Linked DNA regions of Homo sapiens. The protein of the gene in region 1 purifies or fractionates together with the protein of each later gene. This does not show direct contact. Each region holds a gene or a part of one and is shown in the gene's direction. Other genes may lie near its edges. The genes, in order: LACTB2 and OGA.

The links.
Region 2: the proteins of LACTB2 (region 1) and OGA purify together in Homo sapiens (affinity purification with mass spectrometry; 3 studies listed by BioGRID and IntAct, with this or other methods). This does not show direct contact.

Annotation. Positions count from the first base shown.
Region 1 is NC_000008.11:70,632,730-70,648,260, reverse strand, and holds the end of LACTB2 (endoribonuclease LACTB2), read left to right. Parts: intron 1-4,017; coding exon 4,018-4,196; intron 4,197-7,210; coding exon 7,211-7,359; intron 7,360-9,631; coding exon 9,632-9,713; intron 9,714-10,357; coding exon 10,358-10,401; 3' UTR 10,402-10,995; downstream 10,996-15,531.
Region 2 is NC_000010.11:101,785,956-101,801,486, reverse strand, and holds part of OGA (protein O-GlcNAcase), read left to right. Parts: intron 1-1,086; coding exon 1,087-1,245; intron 1,246-2,031; coding exon 2,032-2,645; intron 2,646-3,332; coding exon 3,333-3,507; intron 3,508-5,515; coding exon of another isoform or gene 5,516-5,646; exon of another isoform or gene 5,647-6,006; coding exon of another isoform or gene 6,007-6,086; exon of another isoform or gene 6,087-7,488; coding exon 7,489-7,574; intron 7,575-8,543; coding exon 8,544-8,648; intron 8,649-10,047; coding exon 10,048-10,133; intron 10,134-10,398; coding exon 10,399-10,591; intron 10,592-13,963; coding exon 13,964-14,123; intron 14,124-14,899; coding exon 14,900-15,036; 3' UTR 15,037-15,531.

The DNA of each region.
Region 1 (15,531 bases):
TTTATCTTCTGATGTTTACTAATTGTGTTCTGATGGAAACTACAGAGCTGTTTGGGAGCTCTGAGAATGTGGGGGGGAGTCTTCCGTAGGCTTTAGGCCTCACTGTAGGATAATCTGGATGAGCTCTTCAGTTGGGAACTTTCCAACATTGGTATCGTAGAGTCTTTCTTCCTGAGATGGTAAAATAACTTAGAAAAAGACTCTTCTAATCTTCATGTAGCGTAAAGGCCTGGCTGCCAGAATTATAGAAGCTGAGTGTGGAAAGAAGGCATAGGAATCTACATATATTCTTGTAATCTTACTTTTTTTTAGTATATTGTCACTTCCTGCATCTATGCCTCTGTTTTACCCTCTTCAAAGATTAAACCTCCAGCGTTTCCCTTAGTGAGATTGGGGCACTTCTCAACTCAAAGTGGGAAGAGACTCTTGAGGATCTGAATGTTTGCTAAAAAGACTTTCAACAGACTTCTTATTTCAGCCACCTTCCTTCCACTTCACCCTCCACTTCCAGATTTCCTAAATCCTTAGACTTTGAGGAATTCTGCAGTGCAAATCTGATTGGTTCTCAGCTTTCCCTGCTGCTTATTTAGGCTTCCATTTTCTCCTGTCTGGTAAGTCACTTATCACTCATCTATATGTCATCACATTTACCTTATTCCCACAAAATATTCCATTATTGGGAAGATTTATTAAGTATATCCCAAACATGGCTGGGTACAGCGGCTCCTGCCTGTAATCCCAGCACTTTGTGAGGCCAGGGCAGGCAGATCACTTGAGGTCAGGAGTTTGAGACCACCCTGGCCAACATGGTGAAACCCCATCTCTACTAAAAATACAAAAATTAGCCAGGTGTGGTGGCGGGCACCTGTAGTCCCAGCTACTCAGGAGGCTGAGGCAGGAGAATTGCTTGAACCTGGGAGGCAGAGGTTGCAGTGAGCCAAGATTGCACCACTGCACTCCAGCCTGGGCGACAGAGCGAGACCCTGTCTCAAAAAAAAAAAAAATTATATATATAGATAGATAGAGATATATATATTCCAAGCACATAAAAACTCAATACTGACTAGAATAGCAGGTAATTATCCTCTTAAACTAAATAAAATATAATTTAAACCATATTCCTTCAGACATGTATTGCTATTTGCTGTGATTTATTTATGTAAAATGTAAAATGGAGAGGCTAATAATGCCCAACCCAAAGTAGTGTAAGGATTAAATGTAATTTGTGTAAATCCCTGAAGACACTGCCTGGTACATGGAAAGCAATCTATTACTAAAATTAACTACTACTAAGTGCCAAGTACTGAGCGTATAAAAATGAAAATGAGATGAGAGTCCTGCCCTTCTGGAACTCATAACCTTGTGAGGTAGAATAGCAAACAAAACAATGTGAAGCCTACAGAATAACACATAATTCAAAGTAGAAGAAGAATATAGAGGCAACAGTGACCAGTACAGAGAATTAAGTCTGTATATTGCTGAGAAGTCGGGGTGCTTTGCAGAACAGATTATTTGAACTCAGCTTTTTGTTTATCTGGTTTATTGTTGGCATAGTTACAAAACAATATAAATGTAAATAAGAATTTTTGAAATAAAATACCTGTCATACTTTAAAAGTATTATAATCAGTTTTGTCAACAAAAACTGAAAATTGGAGGAAAGGAAAAAGGAAATAAATGCATGTTAAGTTTCTTATATAGGGTAGAATTTATAAAAAACGGCTCTGTCTTAAAATGTTTAACTAGAGAGAAAAAAATAGATTAAAGAGTCTTTTTCTGATTTGCGTTTCTCTGATGGCCAGTGATGATGAGCATTTTTTCTTGTGTCTTTTGGCTGCATAAATGTCTTCTTTTGAGAGTGTCTGTTCATATCCTTTGCCCACTTTTGATGGGGTTGTTTTTTTCTTGTAAATTTGTTGGAGTTCATTGTAGATTCTGGATATTAGCCCTTTGTCAGATGAGTAGATTGCAAAAATTTTCTCCCATTCTGTAGGTTGCCTGTTCACTCTGATGGTAGTTTCTTTTGCTGTGCAGAAGCTCTTAACCACAATGAGATACCATCTCACACCAGTTAGAATGGCGATCATTAAAAAGTCAGGAAACAACAGGTGCTGGAGAGGATGTGGAGAAATAGGAACACTTTTACACTGTTGCTGGGACTGTAAACTAGTTCAACCATTGTGGAAGTCAGTGTGGCGATTCCTCAGGGATCTAGAACTAGAAATACCATTTGACCCAGCAGTCCCATTACTGGGTATATACTCAAAGGATTATAAATCATGCTGCTATAAAGACACATGCACATGTATGTTTATCACGGCACTATTCACAATAGCAAAGACGTGGAACCAACCCAAACGTCCAACAATGATAGACTGGATTAAGAAAATGTGGCACATATACACCATGGAATACTATGCAGCCATAAAAAATGATGAGTTCATGTCCTTTGTAGGGACATGGATGAAGCTGGAAACCATCATTCTCAGCAAACTATCGCAAGGACAAAACACCAAACACCACATGTTCTCACTCATAGGTGGGAATTGAACAGTGAGAACACATGGACACAGGAAGGGGAACATCACACACCGGGGCCTATTGTGGGGTGGGGGGAGGGGGAGGGATAGCATTTGGAGATATACCTAATGTTAAATGACGAGTTACTGGGTGCAGCACACCAACATGGCGCATGTATACATACGTAACTAACCTGCACGTTGTGCACATGTACCCTAAAACTTAAAGTATAATTTAAAAAAAAAAAAGAGTCTTTTTCTGACCACCTTCTGCATGTTAAGAAAGTTTCTTTTAAGCTTTTAGATAATAACTACTAAAATAAATTTACCATTTATTAAGCATGCAATTTTGTGCCATCTGCTATGCTAAGCACTTAAATACTTGTCTTTGAAAAGTATATACTGATGCCAGCCTAGGCAACATAAAGAGACCTTGTCTTTACAAAAAAATAAAAATAAATTAGCCAAGCGTGGTGGCACATACCTGTGCTCCCAACTAGTCGGGAGGCTGAAGTTGGAGAATTGCTTGAGCCCAGGAGGTTGAGGCTGCAGTGAGCCAGGAACATGCCACCACGCTTCAGCCTGGGTGAGAACAGCTTGGAAAACATAACAAGACCTTGATATATCTCAAAAATAAATAAACATATATGTATATATGTGTATATGTGTGTGTGTGTGTATATATATATATAAAATGATGTAAACATATAATGATGTAGGAAAATACAATATAGTAAGTTAAGATTTCAAAAATCAGGTATTAAAACAATATCAGTTTTGTTTTTAAAATATATAAATATGCATAGAAAATCAAAAAGTATATATTCTGTAATAATAAAAGCTCTCCCTCTGAGGAATAGAAATGATTGTTGATGTTCATTTCTTTTAAACACTTTACTTTTCTATTTTCCAAATTTGTTATAATCAGTGCTTATTATTTATAAAGTAAGAAAAATGGTAGGAGGCCAGATGAGGTGGCTAATGCCTGTAATCCCAGCACTTTGGGAGGCCGAGGTGGTAGGATTGCTTGAGTCTAAGAGTTCAAGACCAGCCTGGTCAATATTGTGAGATCCTGTCTCTACAAAAAATAAAAATAAAAATAAATTAGCCAGGCTTGGTGGCCCACACCTGTGGTTCCAGCTACTCAGGAGGCTGAGGTGGGAGGGTCACTTGGGCCCAGAAGATTGAGCCTGCAGTGACCTGTGATCCTGCCTCTGCACTGCAGCCTGGGCAACAGAGTGAGACCCTGTCTCAAAAAAAGAAAAGAAAAAGGGTGGGAAAAGTATTAAATTTTACTTCAGAGTGAGAATCTTGGTTTAGTTAAAGGAGAGAATTTTCTAATGATAATTTTCAGTGGGTTCAAGAAAAGAAAAAGCAGCTTTTTAACTCATCTGTTTATTTGTGTCTAAAGATAAGGATACAGAATAATTTACTTCTCAAAATTTCTTCTAAGCTCGAGTTCATAATTGTTATTATTCCTTATTTCTTCTTTCAACCAGAGTTCTATATACCCCTGGCCACACTGATGATCACATGGCTCTACTCTTAGAAGAGGAAAATGCTATCTTTTCTGGAGATTGCATCCTAGGGGAAGGAACAACGGTATTTGAAGACCTCTATGATTATATGAACTCTTTAAAAGAGTTATTGAAAATCAAAGCTGATATTATATATCCAGGTGGGTAATTTTTAAATTTTTTTATATTTTTATGTTTTTAAATAGAGACAAGGTCTTGCTATGTTTTCCAGGCTGTTCTCAAACTCCTGACCTCAAGCAGTCCTCCCACCTCAACCTCCCAAAGCGCTGGGTATACAGGCATGCCAAAGTGGGTAGTTTTTCAAACCTAGCAAACCATTTGTGTCAAATGATGAGGAAGGTTCATTTTGGCTTGTCTCTGTATGTATTTGGCCTTGAAGAGATAACATATAAGGCCAGGCTCAGTGGCTCACACCTGTAATCCCAGCACTTTGGGATGCCAAGGTGGGCAGATCATGAGGTCAGGAGTTCAAGACCAGCCTGGCCAACATGGTGAAACCCCATCTCTACTAAAAATAAAAAAATTAGCTGAGTGTGGTGGCGCACACTTGTAATCCCAGCTACTTGGGAGGCTGAGACAGGAGAATCGCTTGAACCTGGGAGGTGGAAGTTGCAGTCAGCAGAGATTGCACCACTGCATGCCAGCCTGGGTGACAGAAGCAAGACTCTGTCTGGGGGAAAAAAAAAACATATCAACTACTTCTTTAAAATATACCCCTCTTTGAGAGGCCTAGGTGGGCAGATCACCTGAGGTCAGGAGTTCGAGATCAGCCTGGCCAACATGGTGAAACCCTGTCTCTACTAATAATACAAAAATTACCCAGGCGTGGTGGCAGGTACCTATAATCCCAGCTACGCGGGAGGCTGAGGCAGGAGAGTTGCTTGAACCTGAGAGGTGGAGGTTGTAGTGAGCCAAGATCCGCCATTGTACTCCAGCCTGGGCAACAGAGCGAAACTCTGTCTCAAAAAAAAAAAAAAAAAAAAAAAAAAAAAAAAAGGAAAATACACCCCTAAGTCCTGTCTAGCTGTGCAGTTAAACTTAAAGAGAAGGCCAAGAGCCATATTAATAACTTTTGATAAAGATATGAGGGTTATTTTTCAACATACAGTTATTAATAGAACTGTTAAAAAGACATAAACTTACATTGAAATGGGAAAATGTTTTCATTCCATAAACCACTGTTATTTTTGTTAACTTGATTTTTATTTGGACCACATTTTAGCTGTGTAACTTTGGGTAATGTTTGACCTCTGAGCTTTAGTTTTTTTAATTTACAATATTGAAATACCAATAGCTTCTATATCAACTATAAAATGGTATCTTTATTTCCATTCTCCAGAAAAAGAAACATGTTAGTGTCTCAGATCTCACTAGACTGTTCTACAATATCAATCTCTCCTTCATCTGAAGAGCTAAGAAATGGCCAGGCGCAGTGGCTCACGCCTGTAATCCCAGCTCTTTGGGAGGCCAAGGCAGGCAGATCACCTGAGGTCAGGACTTCAAGACCAGCCTGGCCAATATGGCAAAACCCCATCCCTACTAAAAATACAAAAATTAGCCAAGCGTCTTGGTGGGCACCTGTAATCCCAGCTTCTCAAGAGGCTGAGGCAGGAAAATCACTTGAACCTGGGAGGCAGAGGTTGTAGTGAGCAGAGATCACGCAACAGAGTGAGACTCCTTCTCAAAAAAAAAAAAAAAAAGCTAAGAAAGACACAGGACCCAATAAAAAGGCCCAAAAGGAAAAAGGGACTAGGTCACTTAACTTCCTAAGTTCTTCTAACTTGCGATTAACCAAGCCATTGAAAGATCCGTCCATCCAGTATCTTCAACACATTTACACTCTGCGATGAGTTCCTACTGCTGGGGGAATAGAAAACATACGGTAGAGCTGGGCATTTAGATTTATATGATGACATTAAAGGATTGCGGGCTGATAGCTTTGGGGGGGTTTGTTTGTTTGTTTTGCTTTGTTTTTGCTAAAGACAGCTATTTTTAAAGCGAAGAGGGCAGACGTTGAGTGAATTCACATTCAAGCTAAGCTAATGAGAGGCTACCTAGTAAAGATTCTAGAGTGCTTTAGTGAATCCAGTGAACTGGCTTACTAGCACAGCAGTTGTTTATATGTAAATTATGCTCTGTAGCCATAGCTACCATATATTAAAGTCTTCTAGCCATCAGGTTTTGTGCAGGGGCCTTTACAGTTGTCATCCTCACCAAAACCCATGTAAAGTAGGTAGTGGTTTCCTCACCACACAGCAGAAGAAACAGCTTAGAGAGATTCAGATACTTCCTCATTTATTAGCCACACAGCAAATAAATGATAGGTCTGTGTCTAACCAGATCCCGTAATAGGTTAGCCTGCTTCTGGATATTTTGTTCTCAAATATTTAAGAACATCATTCTTGCAGACTTATATAATATATAATATTAATGTGTACTGTCTTAAAGGGGAAGTAAATTATAGTATAACTTAATCTGGGTTGTCAAAATTTCTGACATACAGAAGCCTATACATAGGATTCTTAAAGTTTTACTGTGGGTCTTGTGAATTTTTAATAGAGCTTGGTCATGTACATGAAACTGCTTTTTACATTGTCCTTTTGCAGTATTTTATAAGCTTAGCCTAATGGTCAAGAGCACAGAGTGGTTAAGAGATCCTGTCAGAATCCTAACTCCACCCCTTCTTAGCTATGTAACTGTGGACGGATTATTTACCCTCCGTATGTCTCAGTTTCTACCATAAGAAATGTGTAATAATTGTACCTACTTCATGGGATTCTTGTAAGAATAATGTATGTTAAGCATTTAGGGCAGTGCCTAGCACATAGTGAGCACTCCATAAACATTACCTATTGTTATTATTGTAGTTGCTATTTTTATTGCTGTGTTTTATTGTTAAATTTCTATTCCATATTTTTAATGTACACAATATTTTCTATAGATTGTATTTGCTATAATTTTCTAATTGGGGGGTATTGTATATAATTTTTAAATCTCTTTCACCTGTATAGCTTTCCAAATAGTTCATATTTGACATTTAGTATGCTTTTTCAATATATCATATGAATTATTTTTAAATAGAGTGAGTTAGCTTCTGTTGTACTTAGTATTTTTTTATCTGACTGAAGTAACTCTTATAATTATTTTAATTCAGGACATGGCCCAGTAATTCATAATGCTGAAGCTAAAATTCAACAATACATTTCTCACAGAAATATTCGAGAGCAGCAAATTCTTACATTATTTCGTGAGAACTTTGAGAAATCATTTACAGTAATGGAGCTTGTAAAAATTATTTACAAGGTAATTTTCAGTTTTCTTATTTGTATGTAGCCACAAATTTATTAGAATTATCTATTTAGTAGACTATAGAAATGATAAACTTATATCCCAGATCAGAAGTTACGCCACTTTTCTAGATTTGAGACCAGCAGCCTAAACTTTCTACAGTGCTAAAATTAAACAAAAACTGGCCTTAGAGAACAAAGATAGCCATTTCGAGCCATCATTGAACTTTATATACTTAACTATGTAGGAGAAACTGCCTAACTATGTAGGAGAAACTACCAACAGCCTGATGATTACATTTTGTAATAATTTTTGCATTATTCTAGCCATCTTGATTATCTTGTGTCCCAGCCTGCACCAAGAGAGGAGGGGTGACCTGCTAGACACAAATATTGGAATGTTAACAGTGAGAAGTAGTAGCAAAGCAGTGAGAAGTAGTAGCAATGCCAAACAATGGAGAAAAAGAAAAAAAAAATCAAAGAACATGAGTAAAATAGTATGTAGGGAAAGAGCCTTACACCTCACTGGCCTCTGAGAATATCACTGTATTGACAGCACTATATAGCAGTCAGTATAATTCAGTTTTTCAGCAAATGTTTATTAGATGTCTGCTGTGTAGGCAGCATAGCTTAGAGGTTAAAAATGTAAGCTTTTGTGGCCAGGCGTGGTGGCTCACCCCTGTAATCCCAGTATTTTGGGAGGCTAAGTGGGAGGTTTGCTTCAGCCCAGGAGTCCGAGACAAGCTTGGGCAACATAGTGAGACCTCATCTCTACAAGAAATTTTTTAAATGAGCCAGGTGTCATGGAACATGCCTGTGATCCCAGCTGCTCGGGTGGTTGAGATGGGAGGATCACATGAGCCTGGGAAGTCAAGGCTGCAGTGAGCCTACATCGCACCGTTGCACACCAGCCTAGGTGACAGTGCAAGACTGTATCTCAAAAACTTTTTTTTTTGAGATGGAGTTTTGCTCTTGTTGCCCAGGCTGGAGTGCAGTGGCGCCATCTTGGCTCACCACAACCTCTGCCTCCTGGGTTCACGCGATTCTCCTGCCTCAGCCTCCCGAGTAGCTGGGATTACAGGCATGTGCCACCATACCCAGCTAATTTTGTATTTTTAGTAGAGATGGTGTTTCTCAATGTTGGTCAGACTGGTCTCGAACTCCCGACCTCAGGTGATCCACCCGCCTCAGCCTCCCAAAGTGCTGGGATTACAGGCATGAGTCACTGCGCCCGGCCCAAAAACTTTTTTAAAAAAATTAAATTTAAATTAAAATATACAAAGATATTACCCTGTAACCTAATAAATAAATTACAGGGCCAACTGTCTGTAGCATCATGAAAACTTTCTAAGAATAATTTTACATTTATTCATTCATAAAATATTAATGTGTTTCTGCTATGTATTATTATGCTAAACACTGAATATTCAGTAATGAACAAAACAGATACTGCTGCCAGGCCGGGCATGGTGGCTCACGCCTGTAATCCCAGCACTTTGGGAGGCCGAGGCGGGCGGATCACCCGAGGTCAGGAGTTCGAGACCAGTCTGGCCAACATGGTGAAACCCCATCTCTACTAAAAATACAAAAATTAGCGAGGCATGGTGGCACACGCCTGTAATCCTAGCTACTCGGGAGGCTGAGGCACGAGAATAGTTTGAACCTGGGAGGTGGAGGTTGCAGTGAGCCGAGATCGCGCCATTGCACTCCAGCCTAGGTGACAAGAGTGAAACTCTGTCTCAAAAAAAAAGATACTGCTACTGTCTTTATGGAGCTTACAACCTATTCTATCTATAGGAGTATATATAGAATATAAAACAAGATGTATACAAAGTGAAATTGTTAAAAATGTCAAACAAGTTAAAAATGTGTTTAAGATAGGCCAGGCGCAGTGGCTCACGTCTGTAATCCCAGCACTTTGGGAGGCCGAGGCAGGTGGATCACAAGGTCAAGAGATCGAGACCATTCTGACCAACATGGTGAAACCCCGTCTCTACTAAAAGTACAAAAATTAGCTGGGCGTGGTGGTGCTCGCCTGTAGTCCCAGCTACTCGGGAGGCTGAGGCAGGAGAATTGCTTGAACCTGGGAGGCGGAGGTTGCAGTGAGCCGAGATGCACCACTGCATTCCAGCCTGGCGACAGAGTGAGACTCTGTCTCAAAAAAAAAAAAAAATGTGTTTAAGATAAACTTTTGCTACATTTTGCTTTTCTTCAAAGCTTTCAAAAAATTAACTGTGTTCTTTTTTTTAAAAAAAAAGGAATTTTTTTCACCTTCATTTTTCTTTTAGAATACTCCTGAGAATTTACATGAAATGGCTAAACATAATCTCTTACTTCATTTGAAAAAACTAGAAAAAGAAGGAAAAATATGTGAGTATGCTTCCAAATTTTCTTCTATTACCAGCATTTAAAATATTTTTACAGATGCCTTAGTTTCCTTTGAGGAAAAATAATACCCATCAGAGTTCTCCCATGAATATCACTTTAAGTTGGAGAGACAGGCGCTAGGAAGGTCAGTAGCACAGGGCCAGTGGACCACAAGCTGGAACCAAAAGCTCCCAGGGGAATTAGAATCTCAGTTGGAATTCCAATCCTTACCCACCAGAATGGCAATCAAAGACATGTAGCAGGAAGATAACTTTTCTTCTCCCAGACCCAAAAACCACGAAGAATTTCACATGTGGTAGATTTGGGAACAGCCAAAGGTTTTAAACAGTGGTAAAGGTAGTAAACTTAGAGATGTCAAAGCAGTAATTATGTAATTATTTTCTAGTGTTAGTTTGTCAAACTAATAATCTTTATAGAAATGTAATCCTTAAAATCCAGAATTCTAAGCTTGAATTTGATGTAGAAGCCTTAGCAATGTTTTTACATGTACCAAAAATACCCAACTTTATATTGAGCAACAAAATTATTTTAAGAATGAATGCTTTTTCTAGCCACAAGGTAACTTAAAATTCAGTGCATTTACTTATCTATTGTTAAATTTTTACTCTCTGATTTTCTTTTTACAGTTAGCAACACAGATCCTGACAAGAAATGGAAAGCTCATCTTTAGTTTCAGATTAAAGAAAGCTTTGTTTTATTTTGCTTTCAGAGAATGGTATGTTTTCTTAACTATAGGTTATTTTATAGAGAATATAAAAGTATAAAACATTAAAAATAACCCTAGATATACTTTAAAATAATGTTATATTTATGCTAAAATATGTAAATTACACTATACAACCATATGATAGGTTATTTCTCTAACCTTGTCTTCTAACGTTTTACCAAAAATTCATAATCTAATAGTTTATCAGTTTTCAATAGATTAAATAAAATGATTACTTTAAAAATAATAAAATTTATCTAATTTAAAGTTGATATTATTTTTGGCCGTTAGTTATCTATTACTAGTGATCAGTTATACTGTTTTCTATAGCTACTTTATTTAACAGCACAGATTTCTATGCACCTTTACTCTTTCCTCAACCCTTGTCTCTATCTGTACATAATTGCTTTGTCTTGATGTTTCTATCAACTATATCATGACTATCTATTGGTTCCATAACTCTGTATCATGTGTATTTTCTTATTCTGGTATACCACAAATGATTCATGCAAATGAATTTTTGGTGATTGAAAAATATTAAATTCCCAATTTAAAGTATTATATGATAAATAATTATTTCTGTAATCCATTAATGCAACCAACATACTTTCCAAGTTTAAATCTTAGTATGTAAATAGTCATCAGCTTATACATGAATTAGGTACCAAAAGTTTACATTTAAATTAAAGGATTATAAGATAGGGCATTTTTTATATTTTTATATAAGTAGTGTTCTTATATAGTGGTTAGGTTCACAAGGTAGTCCACCAATGCTTACTTAACTTATACAGTTCTCAAACTACAATACTAAAATAAGCCCAGAATCCTGAGTGTATTTTGTTTACTCTTCCCTAAAGATTGAGACTTAAAAATTTTTTTTTGTTTTATTTGTTTGCTTTTGAGACAGTGTCTCTCTCTCTCTGTCACCCAGGCTGGAGTGCAATTGCACAATCTCCGCTCACTGCAGTCTCTACCTCCCAGGTTCAAGCAATCCTCCCACCTCAGCCTCCTGAATAGCTGGGACTACAGGCACATAGCACCACACCTGGCTGATGTTTTTATTTTTTATACAGACAGAATCTCACTATGTTGCCTAGGCTGGTCTTGAACTCCTGGGCTCAAGCAGTCCCCCTGCCTCAGCCTCCCAGCATGCTGGGATGATAGGCATGAGCTACCACACCCAGCCAGACTTAAAATTTTTTTAATTTCCTTTGGCAGCTTCACCTCTTTCTGCCTCTTTTCCCAAGGTCCCTAGCATTTTCATGCCATCCTAATACACTTATTCTCATGCTTTGAAGACCTAGACCCGTATTCCTAGAACTGGTTCTTATTACAAAATAACTTATAAACTCAAAAACAAAAGCAACCTGATTGAAAAATAGACAAAGAACTTGAGTAGACATTTCTCCAAAAAAGATATACAAGTGGCCTATAAGCACATGAAAAGATATTCATCATCACTCATCATTAGATAAATGTTAAAACCCTGAGATACCACTTCAGGCCCATTACGATAGCTGTTACTAAAAATTAAAAATTAAAAAAAAAAAACAGAAAATAACAAGTGTTGGCAAGAATGTGGAGGAATTAGAACCCTTGTGCATTGCTGACAGGAACATAAAATAGTGTAGCCACTATGGAAAACAGTATGATACTTCCTCAAAAAAACCTTTAGAATTACCATATGATCAGCAATTTATCTTCTGACTATATACCCAAAAAATTAAAAGCAGGGACTTAAACAGACATTCGTACATCCATGTTCACAGCAACTTTATTCACAATAGCCAAAAGATGGAAGCAACCTAAATGTCCATTGAAGGATGACTGGATAAATAAAATGTGGTATACACATACAGCAGAATATTAGTTCTTCTTAAAAAGGAGGGAAATTCTGACGTGGGCTACAACATAGATGAACCTTGAAGACATTATGCTAAGTGATATTAGCCTGTCACAAAAGGATAAATACTATACAATAGTACTTATAGGAGGTGCGTAGAGTAGTCAAATTCATACAGACAGAAAGAAGAATGGTGGATACCAGGGAATAGGAGGAAGGGGAAATGGGAAAATAGTGTTTCATGTAAGAAGTTTTGCAGTTTGGGTAGATGAAAAGAGTTCTGGGGATAGGTGGTAATGGTGATTGCAAAACACTGTCAATGTACTTGATGTCACTTAATGATACTGTGTTAGGGTTCTCCAGAGGGGCAGAACCAATAATAATATTACTGTATATATAAAAGGGAGGTTATTAGGGAGAATTGGCTTACACAGTTACAAGACAAAATCCCACAATAGGCTATCTGCAAGCTGGGGAAATGAGAAGCCGGTAGCCTGGCTCGGTCCAAGTCCAAAAGCCTCAAAACCAGGGAAGCCAACAGTGCAGCCAAGGCTGAGGCCAAAGGATTTATTCTTTTTTTTTTTTTTTGTAACAGAATCTCACTGTGTTGCCCAGGCTAGAGTGCGGTGGTGCGATTTCAGCTCACAGCAACCTCTGCCTCCTGGATTCAAGCAATTCTCCTGCCTCAGCCTCCCGAATTGCTGGGATTATAGCCCCAGCTAATTTTTGTATTTTTAGTAGAAACTGAACTGGTTCTTATTAGAACTATATTTTTAGTTTCACCATGTTGGCCAGGCTGGTCTCAAACTCTAGGATTCATTCTTGATATGCCTCTCTTCCTCCTCTTATAACCAAATCTTCACCAAGTATGTAATGCCTATTCCACCTCCAGAATGTATCACTACCTCTTACCCCACCAATACTCCTTAGTCCAGGCCATGGTCCTCTCTTGCCTGAACTAGTGCAATCAATTCTGGGCTTCCTACTTCTATTCTTGGAGGAAATTGGGGAACAGGGGTGAGAAGGGCATTCTGAGCTGAGGAAATCTTACGTAAAAGCCATGGAATTATTGTCTTTTTATAGTACTGTGGCCCACTTCAGATACTGCAGGCTGCAATTAGATATATTGGAAGAGGGGTGATAATGGAAGGCTAGTACATTTATTGTTTATGGAAAGAGTCTAGCAACTGAGAGCTTTAACCAAAACAATGGCATTCATTAAATGTCTGCTTTGTCCTGGGTACTGGGCCAGGCCCTGGGGATACAAAGGTAAACAAAAGAAGCTCATATTTTAGTTATGAAGACATACAATTACCATGTGCTAGAGTAAAGGAAGAGGAGCTAACCTGGCTGAGTTATAGAAAGCTGCTTAGAGGACCCTGAGCTCAGTCTTAAAAGATGAGTACATGGTAGGCAGACGAAGTTAGGGGTATTTGTATGGGAGACGAGAGGAATTGTTCTAACTGGAGGAAATCGTGTATGCATATAAACAGATATGGCAGAGCATCATTTGGTTGGGGAACTAATTTATACAACTAGAATTTATGGTATTGTGTGTTGAGGCCATAGGGATAACAAGAATCTCATGGGAACACAGAATTCACACAGAAAGCAACGTATTGTCATCCAGCCATGCTTCATACAGATTGGAGTATATATACTTTAGGAATTGGAAAGCAGTTCAGGTTCTGGGGCAATTCTAGTGTTATTTAGTTGTATCCTCACAGCAAGAGTTGGCCCTCTTCTATTATGGTGATTTCATTCCTCTATTCATTTCCATTACTTCAGACAATCACTTTACCTTCCGTTCAGAACACCCGGAAGTTTTGGCTGACTCATTTTCTGTTTATTCAAGAGTTTCCGAAGCCTGCTTGTCGTCACCTCTGCCTTCTCTCTGCATATCTTCAGCCTCTGTTTGGCAACTGAGTAGCCCTCTTTGTATCTCGGGTACTGATCTCCTCATAGAAAACAATCTGATTGGTGTGTTTGTTCTCTGTTTGAGAGAATTTTCTTGCCACACTTTCTTATATGTTACTGACCAGCCTTTATGCTGACTGCTCTGGACCAATCATCTGGGACGAGAAGTTTTATCAGAAGGGGACAGGGACCCCATTGAACAGAGGCAGTGGGGAGCATAAGCACTCTGAGATTTGGTCTTTTCAGTATAGTGGGGGAAGGAAAAAAACAGAAGAGGTACCAAGGATACTAGAATAAGGGATAAGAGATAGGATAAATATTTAAGAAGAGGAATAGCACTTAGAAACCTATTAGATATTGAGAGATGGGGGATCAGGCAGAAAGAGAGAAGTCTAGAAGAGCTATAGATTTCTGGCTTGGGCGGCTGGGTAGATGTTGGTAACCAGATTGAGAGAATAGAGGAAATGGGACAGGTAGAGTACAGAAGAGAAGAAAGATGCATTTTACTACAGATACAAGTTTGAAGTACCAGGAAACATCCAAAGGGAGATACCTAGTAGGCACTCAGATATATGGAACTGGAGCTAAGCAGATAAGATATATTTTGTTACAGGTAACAGAAACTTATTTCAACAAGCTTAAGCAAAAGGGGAAGTTGGTTGGCACATATAACCAACCTGAGAAGAATAAGGGTAGAGCAGAGCCAGGCCTGTGAACAAGAACAGATGTTTACATCCCATCAATACAACCCCAAACCTCTCACCTCTATTTATCTTTGCAAGTAAGAGACCCCACAGTCAACTGGGTTCTTCACATGATGAAGGACATGGACATGGTTATGGGAGCTCTGGGCTCATGTTATTTTTTTTTTTTTTTTTTTTTTTTTTTTGGAGACAGGATCTTGCTGTATCACCCAGGCTGGAGTGCAGTGCCACAGACACGGCTCACTGCAACCTCTGCCTCCCGGGCTTGAGTGATCCTCCTGCCTTAACTTCCCCAGTAGCTGGGACCACAGGTGCAGGCTACCATGCCTGGCTAATTTTTATTTATATTTTTTTTTGTAAAGATAAAGTCTTGCCATGTTGCCCAGGCTGGTCTTGAACTGAGCTCAAGCAATCCTCCTGCTTCAGTCTCCCACAGTGCTGGGATTATAGTCATGAGCCACCATACCTGGCCTCTAGGCTCATATTCTCACCACTCTATAACCAGCAGAAAAAGCTGGTTTGTCTAGCTTCGAGATGAAAAACCCTAGGGGAAGAATTCAGTGATTTATACTGGCTCATTACCCATTCCTTAGACCAGTCCCTGTGGTCAAGGAAACATTAGGTACTGCA
Region 2 (15,531 bases), on another chromosome or scaffold:
TTTTCTCTACCACTATCCTGGCTCAGAGCTTTGTTGCCTTATGTGTGCTAATTTGTGGGTCTCTGTCGATTATCTCTTTTTTTTTTTTTTTTCTGAGACGGAGTCTTGCTCTTGTTGCTCAGGCTGGAGTGCAATGGCCCGATCTCAGCTCACTGCAACCTTTGACACCTGGGTTCAAGCAGTTCTCCTGCCTCAGCCTCCCGAGTAGCTGGGATTACAGGTGCCTGCCACCACGTCTGGCTAATTTTTTGTATTTTTAGTAGAGATGGGGTTTTACCATGTTGGCCAGGCTAGTCTCAAACTGCAGACCTCAGGTGATTTGCCCGCCTCAGCCTCCCAAAGTGCTGAGATTACAGGCATGAGCCACCATGCCTGGCCTCTTCTTTTTCCCTCAGCGCCTTTATTAATGAAGTTACAGTCGGTTGTAGTGGCTCACGCTTGTAATCTCAGCACTTTGGGAGGCCCAGGTGGGCAGATCACAAGGTCGAGTTCGAGACCAGTCTGGCCAACATGGTGAAACCCCATCTTCACGAATAATAGAAAAATTAGCTGGGCATGGTGGCATGCGCCTGTAGTCCCAGCTACTGGGGAGGCTCAGGTGGGAGAATTGCTTGAACCTGTGAGGCGGAGGTTGTAGTGAGCCAAGATCCTGCCACTGCACTCCAGCCTGGGTGATGGGGTGAGACTCCATCTCAAAAAAAAAAAAAAAAAAAAAGAAGTTACAAGGCCCTGAAGGCTATGCAATGTTTTCTTCATACGAAAAGCATGGTACTTTTGACCTTGACTTCCCAACAATTAGTACTCAGTAGACGGTTAAGATTGACTCTTCCACTGATACTAAAATTTATATTTCTTATTTCAATTGAGATTTTACATTTAACATTACGTTTAGGTTACTATCCTATATGAAGTGGTTTGGTGAAGGGTCTTGCTTTTATTTGAATTTTTATGTTTAAGGTTTGTTCTCATTCTGTTCTTTGTTTCTGTGGTTATACTGTGAAAACTAGTTGCATTTATTCTTCTCACTTGTCAGAAGGCTTTTGTAATCAAAACTATTTTTGTGCTTTTTTATTTTATTTTTTGCAGCTGACAGTGAAGATAGTACTGTGTCCATCCAGATAAAATTAGAAAATGAAGGCAGTGATGAAGATATTGAAACTGATGTACTCTATAGTCCACAGATGGCTCTAAAGCTAGCATTAACAGAATGGTTGCAAGAGTTTGGTGTGCCTCATCAATACAGCAGTGAGTTTGGCCATTCTTTGTTAAGGGGGTTAGATCACATAGTTGAGTCACAAAGTAAAGAACACTGTCTCCCGGGTGTGGTGGCTCACACCTGTAATCTCAGCACTTTGGGAGGCCGAGGCAGGCGGATCACCTGAGGTCAGGAGTTCGAGACCAGCCTGGCCAACATAGTGAAACCTTGTCCCTACTAAAAATACAAAGATTAGCCGGGCGTGGTGGCATGCGCCTGTCGTCCCACCTACTTGGGAGGCTGAGGCAGGACAGTCGCCTCAACCTGGGAGGCAGAGGTTGCAGTGAGCCAAGATTGAGCCACTGTACTCCAGCCTGGGTGACAGAGCGAGACTCTGTCTCAAAAAAAAGAACACTGTCATGTGCCTTACCTTATGCCCACTAAGCAAAGTGAAATTAAATGAAATTGGGGGATCTAGAGAATAAGGATTTTTAAATCTTACTTTTGGTCTTAAATATTAGCTTTTATTTTGATGGAATGCTAATTTCTCTTAAAAACATATTTTTTGAAGTAATTTAAGGGTTTTTAGACACAAATTTTCAAAAGAGAATGTAATAGTAGATGTTGGCATGTTTACCTCCCAACGCCCTTCCATTCCTGCATCCCTAGTAGTATAGAGAAATCTCATTTTTCTTAGAGGTCAAATTAATTTGGATCTAAAATTGAGGTTCCACTTAACAAATATGATAAAGCATCTTTCTGAATCTAATGTGTTCTATCTCTAATTCTGATTATCTGTGTGACCATTTTATTTATACATTTATTTATTTTTGTAGGTAGGCAAGTTGCACACAGTGGAGCTAAAGCAAGTGTAGTTGATGGGACTCCTTTAGTTGCAGCACCCTCTTTAAATGCCACAACCGTAGTAACAACAGTTTATCAGGAGCCCATTATGAGCCAGGGAGCAGCCTTGAGTGGTGAGCCTACTACTCTGACCAAGGAAGAAGAAAAGAAACAGCCTGATGAAGAACCCATGGACATGGTGGTGGAAAAACAAGAAGAAACGGACCACAAGAATGACAATCAAATACTGAGTGAAATTGTTGAAGCGAAAATGGCAGAGGAATTGAAACCAATGGACACTGATAAAGAGAGCATAGCTGAATCAAAATCCCCAGAGATGTCCATGCAAGAAGATTGTATTAGTGACATTGCCCCCATGCAAACTGATGAACAGACAAACAAGGAGCAGTTTGTGCCAGGTCCAAATGAAAAGCCTTTGTACACTGCGGAACCAGTGACCCTGGAGGATTTGCAGTTACTTGCTGATCTATTCTACCTTCCTTACGAGCATGGACCCAAAGGAGCACAGATGTTACGGGAATTTCAATGGCTTCGAGCAAATAGTAGTGTTGTCAGTGTCAATTGCAAAGGAAAAGACTCTGAAAAAGTGAGTATGTTTAATGTACCTGCTGCTGAAGCCTGGGTGGTTCCCCATACTGGTAATGTGGAAAAGGTTCTTAAATGAGTACACTGTAACTGACAGAAAATTGACCATGTTTTAGAATATGTTCTTTAGGCCGGTTATGATGGCTCATGCCTGTAGTCCCAGAACTTTGGGAGGCAGAGGCGGGCAGATCACCTGAGGTCAGGAGTTTGAGATCAGCCTGGCCAACATGGTGAAACCCCATCTGTACTAAAAATACAAAAATTAGCCGGGCATGGTGACGGGCACCTGTAATCCCAGCTACTCAGGAGGCTGAGGCAGGAGAATCGCTTGAAGAACCCGGGAGGCGGAGTTTGCAGTGAGCTGAGATCGTGCCATTGTACTCCAGCCTGGGTGACGAGAGGGAAACTGTCTCAAAAAAAAAAAAAAAAAAAAAGTATGTTCTTTACAGTGGATGTGGACTCTACTAAATCTGGTACCTTCAGTTTCATAGTTTGCCCTTCTAGTTAAGAATGAGGAAAGGTCATTATTTTAGGAATATTTGTCAGTTTGGGGAGACACAAAATGATACTTTAATGGTTAAGATAAATTGCCAGTACCTGACAACATAAGCAGCTTAATGTGTAACTGTGTCTCAGATTATTTTGTTAAGCTTACAGTTTTTTGAGTCTTTTTATTGATCTTCAATAGATTGAAGAATGGCGGTCACGAGCAGCCAAGTTTGAAGAGATGTGTGGACTAGTGATGGGAATGTTCACTCGGCTCTCCAATTGTGCCAACAGGACAATTCTTTATGACATGTACTCCTATGTTTGGGATATCAAGAGTATAATGTCTATGGTGAAGTCTTTTGTACAGTGGTTAGGTAGGTGCACCAGGAATAATCTCTTCTCCTCAAATATATTGTCCCTTTAAAAAAAATTATCCCACAGGGAGAAAAACATTTAGGGAATTGGCACATTTCCAAGTCTCTTCAATTCGTTGCCTAGGTTTCTTTCAAAAATAGGCATTATTGAAGACTTGAGATGCAAGTCTTAGTAAATACATCAAGCACATTAATTTTTCTCCCTTGGGCTAATTCAGCATAAGTATCTTAAAAGTATGTTAGAAAGTACTGACTTTAACTTGCTCTGACTGAATGCTTTCTGGATGGAACCCTGTATACCACTTTTATCTGATTTGGAGATGAGACACTATGAAATGTGACTCCACAAGCTTTCTGCTGCTTGCTGTGTCTTGATAACATTAATGCTATGTTTAACAGAACAATTGCTGAAATGACCTAAAGGGCCTGGCAAGAGGAAGCCATCCTCCCAGCCCTGTGCGCATGCGAGCTTTAGTGTAAGGCTATTCTGGTGCTATTCAGTATTATTTCACGTGGCTTTTTCTTTATCCTTCTACCAAGTATTGGTTTTACCAGGGGATAGAAATTGTAATCCCCTAAACATCTCTGCTACATTAAATGGACTTTTGTATGTCTCCTTTGAACACTGATTTTTTTTTTTTAAATTGTCAAACTTGGTAAAAAGCACCAGCATGGCCAAGTTTCTCTAGGGACTTCATTTCATTTTCAGGTTTTCAATCCAGCTATAAGGAATATGTAATGGACTTATATACAGCACACAGCAGGCAGCAAGGCTGACTGACATGTCATAGTTTTCATAGTAGTCACAAATACTATGATGGGTTTCATGGTCTTGGTTGTGAAATAGATATCTGAAACACCGTGAGCTTAGAATAAAAAGTAGTAGTGAGATTTTCCACTTTCTGCCTGTATACCTTTGAGCTCTTAAATATTTAAAAAAAAAAAAAAAAAGTTTCCCTGTGATACAACTAATTAGCTACTAAAAGTAGAGTCTCAGATTGTTAATTTGAAAATAGATAACTTTTTTTGGATTGCTGTAATAACAGGTAGAAGAGAGTATTTTGACCTCATGTTAAAAGGCTCTGTATAGCTTCGGGCGCGGTTGCTCACCCCTGTAATCCCAGCGCTCTTGGTGGCTGAGGTGGGTGGATCACTTGAGATCAGGAGTTCGAGACCAGCCTGGTGAAAACCAGCATGAGACCAGCATGGTGAAACCCTATCTCTACTAAAAAAATACAAAAATTAGCCAGGCGTGGTGGCGCATGCCTGTAATCCCAGCTACTTGAGAGGCTGAGGCAGGAGAATTGCTTGAACTCAGGAGGCAGAGGTTGCAGTGAGCTGAGATCACACCATTGCACTCCAGCCTGGGCGATAGAGGGAGACTCCATCTCAAAATAAATAAATAAATAAAGGAAATACTGACCGTGCGCAGCGGCTCAAACCTGTAGTCCCAGCACTTAGGGAGGCCTAGGCGGGCAGACCACAAGGTCAGGAGTTTGAGACCAGCCTGGCCAATATGGTGAAACCCCATTTCTACTAAAAATACAAAAATTAGCTGGGCGTGGTGGCATGTGCTTGTAGTCCCAGCTGCTTGGGAGGCTGAGGCAGAAGAATCACTTGAACCCAGGAGGTGGAGGTTGCAGTGAGCCGAGATTGTGTCACTGCACTCCAGCCTGGGTGACAGAGCGAGACTTCATCTTGTGGGGCTGGGGGGAGGCTCTGTATAGCTCCTGTACATGGGAGACATCTACCCTTAGGCTCAAGAGACCTCAATATTGGTTGCTGGATGACAACATTTGCCTTCCAGGTTTCTGCTCAGGTTCTTATAATTCATTCTTATAGGGATTTAAACTTAAGTTTCTAAGGCCCTTAGGAATTTTGAACCTGAAATCTGGATTATTGAGCTTGAAATGTATTACAGAAAACATTTGATATTCAGTTTTTAATTTAAGAATTATTAAAAGTTAAATTCTTAATGATACACAGTATTGTTTCTTTCTCTTCTCAGGGTTTATCTCTGCACTGAGCATTTATGGTGGTAGCTTTCCAAAATTATATAGATACCTCTTACACAATCTCAAGCTCTTACAGCAAGCTTGTCCAGCCTGTGGCTCAACACAAGTTTGTAAACTTTCTTAAAACATTGTGAGTTTTTTTATTTTTTATTTTTTTTAAGCTCATCAACTATCATTAGTGTATTTTATGTGTGGCCCAAGACAGTTCTTCCAGTGTGGCCCAGGGAAGCCAAAAGATTGGACACCCCTTGTAACATCTTAGAAGTTTTAAATAATTATCTTCATATCCACATAGCTTTACAAAAGCTCACGACAGGGAGAGTATTTTCTTGGTTCTGTAGTAATTTCAGGGGGTTTACTGATTGGAACCCTTCCTTTTCCTCCTCTCTCCAGTCCAGCTGGCATTCAGTCCTTTAAACAATGTGGCTATGCAGTACTTTTGATTACTAATGACTTCTATTATCTTCTTCCCCATTGTGTACAGATGGGAGAATCCTCAGCACAAGTGTCTACTACTATTGGATGGACAGCGGCAGATGTTCACAGCGCGTCATGATTAATTAGTTTAAATTGCAAGGTTCTATCTGTGAGGTAGCTCAGGTAGATTTAAGGGCGGTAGACATGAACTGAAGTCACGTTTGCGCAGCGACTGAGGCATTAACCATGTTTTCATTTACACAGCTCTTCGTACATGCAGCTTTTTATTGTAATAGTTGGAAGTGCTAGTTATGTTGTAGTCTCAAAGTAGGGGGTAGGGGAAATTGGCTGATCTTAAAGTTTGAGAGGTATAGTTTTTTTCCTGCAGTGTAAATTACACTGAGTTACGGAATGGGACAGGTTCTCGTATAGTCTAAATTTTGACCCTGTTTCATATTTATTTTACAAATACTACATTTTATGTTTTTTAAAAGTACCCCTACCCTTGAAAAATGACAAACCAGATACAAACTCTTAATGGGCCTGAATTGTTAACAAAAAATTGGTTTGCTTTGGGACTGTCTGACTAGCACACTATATTTGTACTGATGAGACTGTTAACTTGAACAGGAGGTAGAATGCTGTCTTCCAATGGAAAAGAACTATATTGCGCTGCTTTATCTTGTCAGAAGACTAGGCAAGTGATTTTGATTTGGCCTCCAAACATTTGCCTTTATGTCTTACTGTTAGCTAGCGTTATTGCCTATTAAGTTAGTTAACTGGTGACCTTAAATAGAGACTTCTGTATTCCATGTGTATGTTCAGTGTATTGCAAAGATTATTATAATGGCTGGTCAGAGGAACCAGATACTGTCATACTTTTAAGAAAAGTATATTTAGCTCTGGGCAAAATAACATCAATTGGCTCTCCTTAGTTCTCAGAATCTGTCAGACTGGTATTATTAGCCAAGTCTGATTTTGAATTGTTTTTGTCCAAAAAAATTTTTCTCATTATGTTTCATTTTGTCAACTTAATTTCTTGTATTTTATTCTACTGACCTTAGTTTTCTGACAAGATTAATCCTTCTCCCCCGCCCTTTTCCCTTACCTGTACCCTTCCTCAAAATGTAAAATGTGACTTCAGACAGGTTGAATTCCTTCATGGGCTGTGATAATAAAGTGTCTAATTATCAGTCATTTTAGTTAATAGTTACTATAATTTTATGACAGAGCAAGCAGCTAGCTTGATTTGTATAATATCTAGGGAATATATAAAGTTGACTCAGACAAACTTGGGACTTACTTTCCTTCCAGTAATTAAAGAGTAGAACTGATAATACTGATTATTCATTAATTGGAGGAAGGAACATTAGTATTGAAATGCCGTTAACATTTTAAAAAATAATAATTATTATCATAGCCTTGCCCTGAAACCCTGATTATTGTTAGAGAGTTATTTCCACGAAGTGTTTGTCAGTTTGTTGGACATTTGAGACCCCAGGAAATCCCCTTTCTCGTAACGTTCTCCGCTTGGATCTGATCTCAACAGGGTGTCGTAGTCATTCTTCAGCACAATTCTTAATTGGAGACCAAGAACCCTGGGCCTTTAGAGGTGGTCTAGCAGGAGAGTTCCAGGTATCAATATGAATTCACAACTGAATTGACATTTTCTTTGTTTTATGAGAAACCTTATGTTGCGCATCAGATGGCTGGAAGGATTGGTCTGCCGAAGGCTTTCTAGTCCCAAATTCAATTTAGTTACATAGCTGGATTTTTAAATCAAATTTTCCTCCTCTTTCACAGTAATTTCTGAAGGAGATGCTGCCAATCCCCCCCGCGCCTGCGAAGCGCAGCGGCTCTAGGTATACACTTCACATTGTTTCTTTGCAGGTCGCACAGCATTTTAATCTGCGCCCGCAATGCACAATGCGCGCATGCTTGTCTGCCAGTGGAAGCTCCATGAACAAAAGATAGTAATTATGCCAATAAATGGTGAAAGAGCTTTTGGATATTTATCCAATTATTTTATAAATATAATGTGCTTGAAAGAATTGTCCATTGCTGAAAATATGAACAAAATAGGAAGTTTTTTTGCTGCTGGAATTTGTTCATGGACTTTCTAGGTGCTCTACTTTTCTCCCCCCAACAGGTGCTCTGCTGCGCACAGCAAACTGAAGCGCATTGCTTTGGGGATAAAGCGTCTCCTGGACAGATAACCCTCTTCAGACCAAACCTCTCCTCCTGACATTCTGTTCTGCCATCTTATCGTAGGGAGATGGTCTATCTAAGATAGGTTTTAAAAAAAAATAGATTTGTCATAATTGGAATAGGTTTGTTTTTGTTTTTGTTTTTGTTTTTACTGTAAATTTAAATCCCCATTAATATGCCACTAAAGCTGTAACTCAGAGTGGGTAATTTCTATTCAGAAGCACTCCCCTCCCCCAGCAAAGAGGTATTTCTATTAGTAAAGCATAGTACACCCCTCTTCTTTAGGTCTGCCTGCAGTAGCCAGTTAATATAAGTTGGTAATCTGCAGTGCACACCCATTTAAAAAAATGGATACCTTCCCCAAACTAATCCATCTCCTTTTTTTTCTTCCCACAGCGTTTGCTGCCAATTGATGGGGCAAATGATCTCTTTTTTCAGCCACCTCCACTGACTCCTACCTCCAAAGTTTATACTATCAGACCTTATTTTCCTAAGGATGAGGTAATTGTCTCTCTACCTACCAACTTGGTGTATGGGTATGGTGCACACTTAAAACTTAACCTTTTAACTCACTGGTTAAAGGAATCCTTCTGTCTTAAAACTGCAAACTTTAGATGGAGAAAGTTCATTAAAACATTCAGTGTATCTTGAGAAATTTAAGGAGTTTAGACTTTTAACATCTTGTGCCAAGTTCTTTAATTTCTCCCTTGAGAAAGTCAGATGAAATGTATTCAGAGTTGGAGTTACAAAATAGTTAATGTGTCTAAATGATGTGTTGTCCTTAGACTAATTATCTCTAATATATTGGTGTTCTGTAATTTTCTTTCAATTGTGAAGTATCTACAGGCTGTTGACAATCAGCTAAAGAAAAAAGCAAGACTGTTTAAAGACAGTAACAGGGCCAGGCGCGGTGGCTCACGTCTGTAATCCCAGTACTTTGGGAGGCCGAGGTGGGCAAATCACCTGAGGTCAGGAGTTCAAGACCAGCCTAGGCAACATGGTGAAACCCTTTCTCTATTAAAAATACAAATAGGCCGGGCTTGGTGGCTCATGCCTGTAATCCCAGCACTTTGGGAGGCCGAGACAGGCGGATCACGAGGTCAGGAGATCGAGACCATGGTGAAACCTTGTCTCTACTAAAAATACAAAAAAAATTAGCTGGGTGCGGTGGTGGGTGCCTATAGTCCCAGCTACTCGGGAGGCTGAGGCCGGACAATGGCTTGAACCCGGGAGGCAGAGCTTGCAGTAAGCCGAGATCATGCCACTGCACTCCAGCCTGGGGCGACAGAGCGAGACTCCGTCTCAAAAAAAAAAAAAAATAATAAATAATAAAAAATAATACTAAATTAGCTGGGCGTGGTGGCGGGTGCCTGTAATCCCAGCTACTCTGGAGGCTGAGGCCGGAGAATTACTTGAGCCTGAGAGGCGGAGGTTGCAGTGAGCCAAGATCGTGCCATTGCACTCCAGTCTAGGTGACAGAGACTCCGTCTCAAAAAAAAAAAAAAATTAGATGAGTATGGTGGCGTATGCCTGTAATCCCAGCGAATTGGGAGGCTGAGGCAGGAGAATCACTTGAACCCAGGAGGTGGAGGCTGCAGTGAGCCGAGATTGCACCACTGCACTCCAGCCTGGTGACAGCAAGACTTTGTCTCAAAAAACAAAAAAACCATCCTCTGCAAAAGCCAATTCTCAGTATTCCTAAAACCTTGCTGTTTTTTGCTGGTTTTACAAATCTGACTCAATGAATAAATCTTTATTTTACAAAGAAGAGGTGATATTTCTGATAGATGTTTCTGACAGGCCATTTTGTTACTCCCTCCCCAGACTGACTTGTGAGTTATATTGTTAGATTCTGCTGCCATTTTTCTTGATGTGTTGCTTAACTAGATTATATTTTCAGGCATCCGTGTACAAGATTTGCAGAGAAATGTATGACGATGGAGTGGGTTTACCCTTTCAAAGTCAGCCTGATCTTATTGGAGACAAGTATGTGATAAGTATTTGGATTTGAGAGTAGACCTTTCATAGTGAGGCTTATCAGGTTGAGGGGAGGTGATGACTGGAAATATATTTATTTATTTTAAATCCCACTTTGGCTTTAGTAAAATCTGAATATGTGTGCATTTCTAGTTTCTTACACCAAATGTAGGTTCCGTAAGTTCATGCAAGTACAGTGGGTCTTGGATCACTGAAGTCTGAATTTTATATTAGCAACTGAAAAGTTTACTGTGGCCTCTTTCCTTCTGAGCAGGTTAGTAGGAGGGCTGCTTTCCCTCAGCCTGGATTACTGCTTTGTCCTAGAAGATGAAGATGGCATATGTGGTTATGCCTTGGGCACTGTAGATGTGACCCCCTTTATTAAAAAATGTAAAATTTCCTGGATCCCCTTCATGCAGGAGAAGTATACCAAGCCAAATGGTGACAAGGAACTCTCTGAGGCTGAGGTAATACAAAGGTTAAGAATTATACTATGGTAATGGTCTTTTTTATTTATTTATTTTTATTTTTTATTAAAGTACTTACTAAAATGGAAAAGTACATAGATACATCATAAAATCTTAGTGCTTTCTAAATTAATTTTCTTGCAGAAAGAATTCTTATGGCTTATTCTTAGCATGACATTTTTCACTGTTTCCCCAATATTGGGACAGTTTTTTATTTGGGAGTACTATTGTAATATTTCCTCAGGTGAAAACACAATAAAGACAAAGAACATTTTTTTCCTCTGTTTTAAAGTTTCATACTTAAAGATGTTATGGTCTTGGTCAGGCACAGTGGCTCGTGCCTGTAATCCCAGCACTTTGGGAGGCCAAGGCGGGTGTATCACCTGAAGTCAGGAGTTCAAGACCAGCCCGGCCAACGTGGTGAAACTCCATCTCTACTAAAAATACAAAAAAAAATTAGCTGGGTGTGGTGGCGGGTGCCTGTAATGCCAGCTACTCAGGAGGCTGAGGCAGGAGAATTGCTTGAACCCAGGAGCGGGAGGTTGCAGTGAGCTGAGATGGCGCCACTGCACTCCAGCCGGGGCAGCAGAGTGAAACTCTGTCTCAAAAAAAAAAAAAAAAAAAAAAAAACAAGATATTATGGTCGTTTTGTTGAGTACTCAGGACAATTTAAGTAATTTAAATCTATTTGGTGGTTTCTCAGAAGGTTAATAACTTGCCTTCTGACTAATGCATTCTACATTGTGATTTAAAAATAAGAGCTCTTGAGAGTCTACTTTGTGATAGGAGCACTTCTTAATAAGTCTGTCCTGTCCCAACTTAAATACATTTTTCATCTCCAAAAAAGTTTTATGCCCCATGTTGGCCAACACATTACGTGATTATTTTGGTTTATACATCAGTATATGTTGTTGTTGTTTTGAGACAGTGTCTCACCTTGTCACCCAGGAATGCAATAGCACAAACATGGCTCACTGCAGCCTTGACCTCCCAGGCTCAAGTTATCCTCTTGCATCAGCCCTGCAAGTAGCTGGGACTACAGGTGCAAGCCACTACGCATCAGCTAACTTTTTTGTATTTTTTTTGTAGAGATGGGGTTTCGCCGTGTTGCCCAGGCTGGTCTCAAAGTCCTGAGCTCAAGCAGTCCGCCTGCCTCGGCCTCCCATACTGCTAGGATTACAAGCACGAGCCACTGTGCCTGGCCAGTATATGCATTTTTTAGATAGTTCCTTCTTGAGGATAGTTTTTATGCACAGTAAATAAGATATTTGGACCCCTACTTGTGATACTTTTTTCTTTTCTTCTATGTTGTTTCTCTTTTCCTTTTCTAAAATTCTCTACCCCTCTCCACCACACCAAAGTATTCATAGTCTTTTTATTTATTTATTTATTTTTTTGAGACAGAGTCTTGCTCTTGTTGCCCAGGCTGGAGTGCAGTGACGCAATCTTGGCTCACCGCAACCTCCACCTCTCAGGCTCAAGCAGTTCTCCTGCTTCAGCCTCTCGAGTAGTTGAGATGACAGGCATGTGCCACCACGCCCGGATAATTTTATATTTTTAATAGAGACGGGGTTTCTCCATGTTGGTCAGGCTGGTCTCAAACTCCCGACCTCAGGTGATCCGCCCTCCTCAGCCTCCCAAAGTGCTAGGATTATAGGCGTGAGCCACCGCGCCTGGCCTCATTTTCTTCATAGTTTATTTCTATATTTTACCTTCTGCCCTTAGTCACATGGCTGTGTAACAAGAGGCTGGTTTGGTGTTGCCTCGCTTACTTGGGATTACACTGACACTATGCTGGTGATTGAGCTGCTGATGTATTGCTGTTCCACATCTGACACTTTTCAGCATAAGAACTTTTTAAAAATTGTGGTAAAATATAAATAACATAAAATTTGCACATTTTCATGTAAGGAATACGTTAATTTAAAATATTTTATGTATTTTAAATGATTTTAGATTTACAGAAAAGTTGCAGAGTTAAAACAGAGTTTCTGTATACTCCTTATCCATTTTCTGTATTGGTGAAGTCTAAGTAACCAACATGGGTATATTATTAATCAGACACCAAACTTTATTCACCAGTTTTTTCTGCTAATGTCCTTTTCCTGTTCCAGGATCCAATACCACATAGCATTTAGACAAAATTTTTTTTTTTTTTTTTGAGACGGAGTTTCCCTCTGTCGCCTGGGGTGGAGTGCAATGGTGCGATCTCGGCTCACTGCAACCTCCGCCTCCCAGGTTCAAGTGATTCTCCTGCCTCAGCCTCCCGAGTAGTCGGGATTACAGGCGCCCACCACTAGGCCCAGCCAATTTTTGTATTTTTACTAGATACGGGGTTTCACGATGTTGGCCAGGCTGGTCTCAAACTCCTGACCTTGTGATTCACCTGTCTCGGCCTCCCAAAGTTCTGGGATTACAAGTGTGAGTGAGCCACCACGCCTGGCCAGAAAACTTTTTTTTTTTTTTTTTTTTTTCCCCGCCCAGGCTGGAGTGCGGTGGCAGGATCTCAGCCTACTGCAACCTCTGCCTCCCGGGTTCAAGCAATTCTCCTGCCTCAGCTTCCCGAGTTGCTGGGACTACAGGCGCACGCCGCCATGACTGGCTAATTTTTTATGTTTTTAGTAGAGACAGGGTTTTACTTTGTTGCCCAGGCTGGTCACAAACTCCTGAGCTCAGGCAGTCTGCCTGCCTCAGCCTCCTAAAGTGCTAGGATTACAGGCGTGAGCTACTAGACCCAACCCAAACTTTTTTTTTTTTTTTTTTTTAAGACAGAGTCTCGCTCTGTTGCCCAGGCTGGAGTGCAGTGGCGCCATCTCAGCTCACTGCAAGCTCCGCCTCCTGGGTTCACGCCATTCTCTTGCCTCAGCCTCCCGAGTAGCTGGGACTACAGGTGCCCGCCAACACGACCTAATTTTTTGTATTTTTTTTTAGTAGAGACAGGGTTTCACTGTGTCAGCCAGGATGGTCTTGATCTCTGGCCCAAGCTTTTAAAAGTGAAAACGGTGGCCAGGCACGGCAGCACACACTTGTAATTCTAGCACTTCAGGAGGCCGAGATAGAAGGATCACTCGAGCCCAGGAATTCGAGACCAGCCCTGACGATATAAATAGGGAAAGAGAGAGAGAGAGAGAGAGAGCGCGTGCACGCGAGGGAGAATGCCTGCCCCTCTCCAGCCTGGCCAACAGAAGGAGATCCTGTCTCAAAGAAAGTGAAAATGCTTCAGCTAGAATTATAGGATAATCCTGTGTGAGATAATTTACATAGTGACTGGAAGAGTTATTAAATATTGCTTTCTTGTTGCTAAGTTCTGTAGTTGGGTTAGATATCTAATGCGTAACTATTGTGAAAGTCAAGAGATTCTAATTTTTCCAGAAAATAATGTTGAGTTTCCATGAAGAACAGGAAGTACTGCCAGAAACTTTCCTTGCTAATTTCCCTTCTCTGATAAAGATGGACATTCACAAAAAAGTAACTGACCCAAGTGTGGCCAAAAGCATGATGGCTTGCCTCCTGTCTTCACTGAAGGCTAATGGTGAGTACATATTTGTGGAGTTGGTGGTATTTGGGCAAGATAGGGAAAGAACTATATATTTTTGGATATAAAAGGAAAGAAGTGAATTGTAAATTTATACTGCTTTTCCCACCTTTTATGATTTGGTTTCTGAATTAATTAGTGGTGAAGAATCGCATGTGTATTAATAATTGAGAAATGCTGGTTGGGCTTAGTGGCTCATGCTTGTAATCCTAGCACTTCGGGAGGCCGAAGTGGGAGGATCACTTGAGTCCAGGAGTTTGAGACCAGCCTGAGCAATATGGCTGAGACCCCATCTCTACCTAATTTAAAAAAAAAAAAAAAAAAGGCCGGGCACGGTGGCTCACGCAGCACTTTGGGAGGCCGAAGTGGGCGGATCATGAGGTCAAGAGATCGAGACCAGCCTGGCCAACATGGTGAAACCCTGTCTCTACTAAGAGTGGTGGCAGGCGCCTGTAATCCCAGCTACTCGGGAGGCTGAGGCAGGAGACTTGCTTGAAGCCGGGAGGCGGAGGTTGCAGTGAGCCGTGATCTTGCCACTGGACTCCAACAGAGCAAGATTCTGTCTCGGGTGCGGGGGAAGCTGGGTGCAGTGGCTCACGCCACTCATTATTGAATTTTTTGAATATGAATTTTTTTAATTGTGTGAAATGTAGGAGCTGGTGTAGACAGACAAGCCCTGTTTATATTAACCATCTCGAAGATTATAGTTTTATATCTATAATTATACTAATTAAGTGACTTATTTATGTTTTGAATATTTGTTTTATTTCTAGGCTCCCGGGGAGCTTTCTGTGAAGTGAGACCAGATGATAAAAGAATTCTGGAATTTTACAGCAAGTTAGGATGTTTTGAAATTGCAAAAATGGAAGGATTTCCAAAGGATGTGGTTATACTTGGTCGGAGCCTGTGACATTTGTTGACACTGTGAACTGTCCAAAAGTCTCTTAACTGCACCTTGTGAATGGTAGTTGAGGTCTTCATACAGTTCAGCCTCTAGAATGGTAACAAATCAGCCAATTGGATTCGAAACAAAGAAGACTATGTAAAACTCACCCATCACACTTTGAGACTACTCACTGGTTGGAAGAATATAGTATTGCAGCAAATCCTGTATGAAAGAGAGATGTGGGCTTCCTTTTTGAGTCTTGTGTTAGGTGCTGAGACCTTTTACATGGGCTTATACAGGGAGAGAGTCTTCAATAAATGTAGTCAGCACTATTTTCTGCATCCAGTGTGGTTGCGTTTCTCACCTGAGAGTAATCAAGATAACATCTGTCATCTTCCTTGGTTTATTGAGTGAAATGCCTCTCAGTCTTAGGGGACATGGCAGAGATGAAAGAAAGAAAGAGTGGGTTTCAGAAGTGTCAGGGTGGAGTGATTCCAAGTGGGATGGTTGTGGCATTAG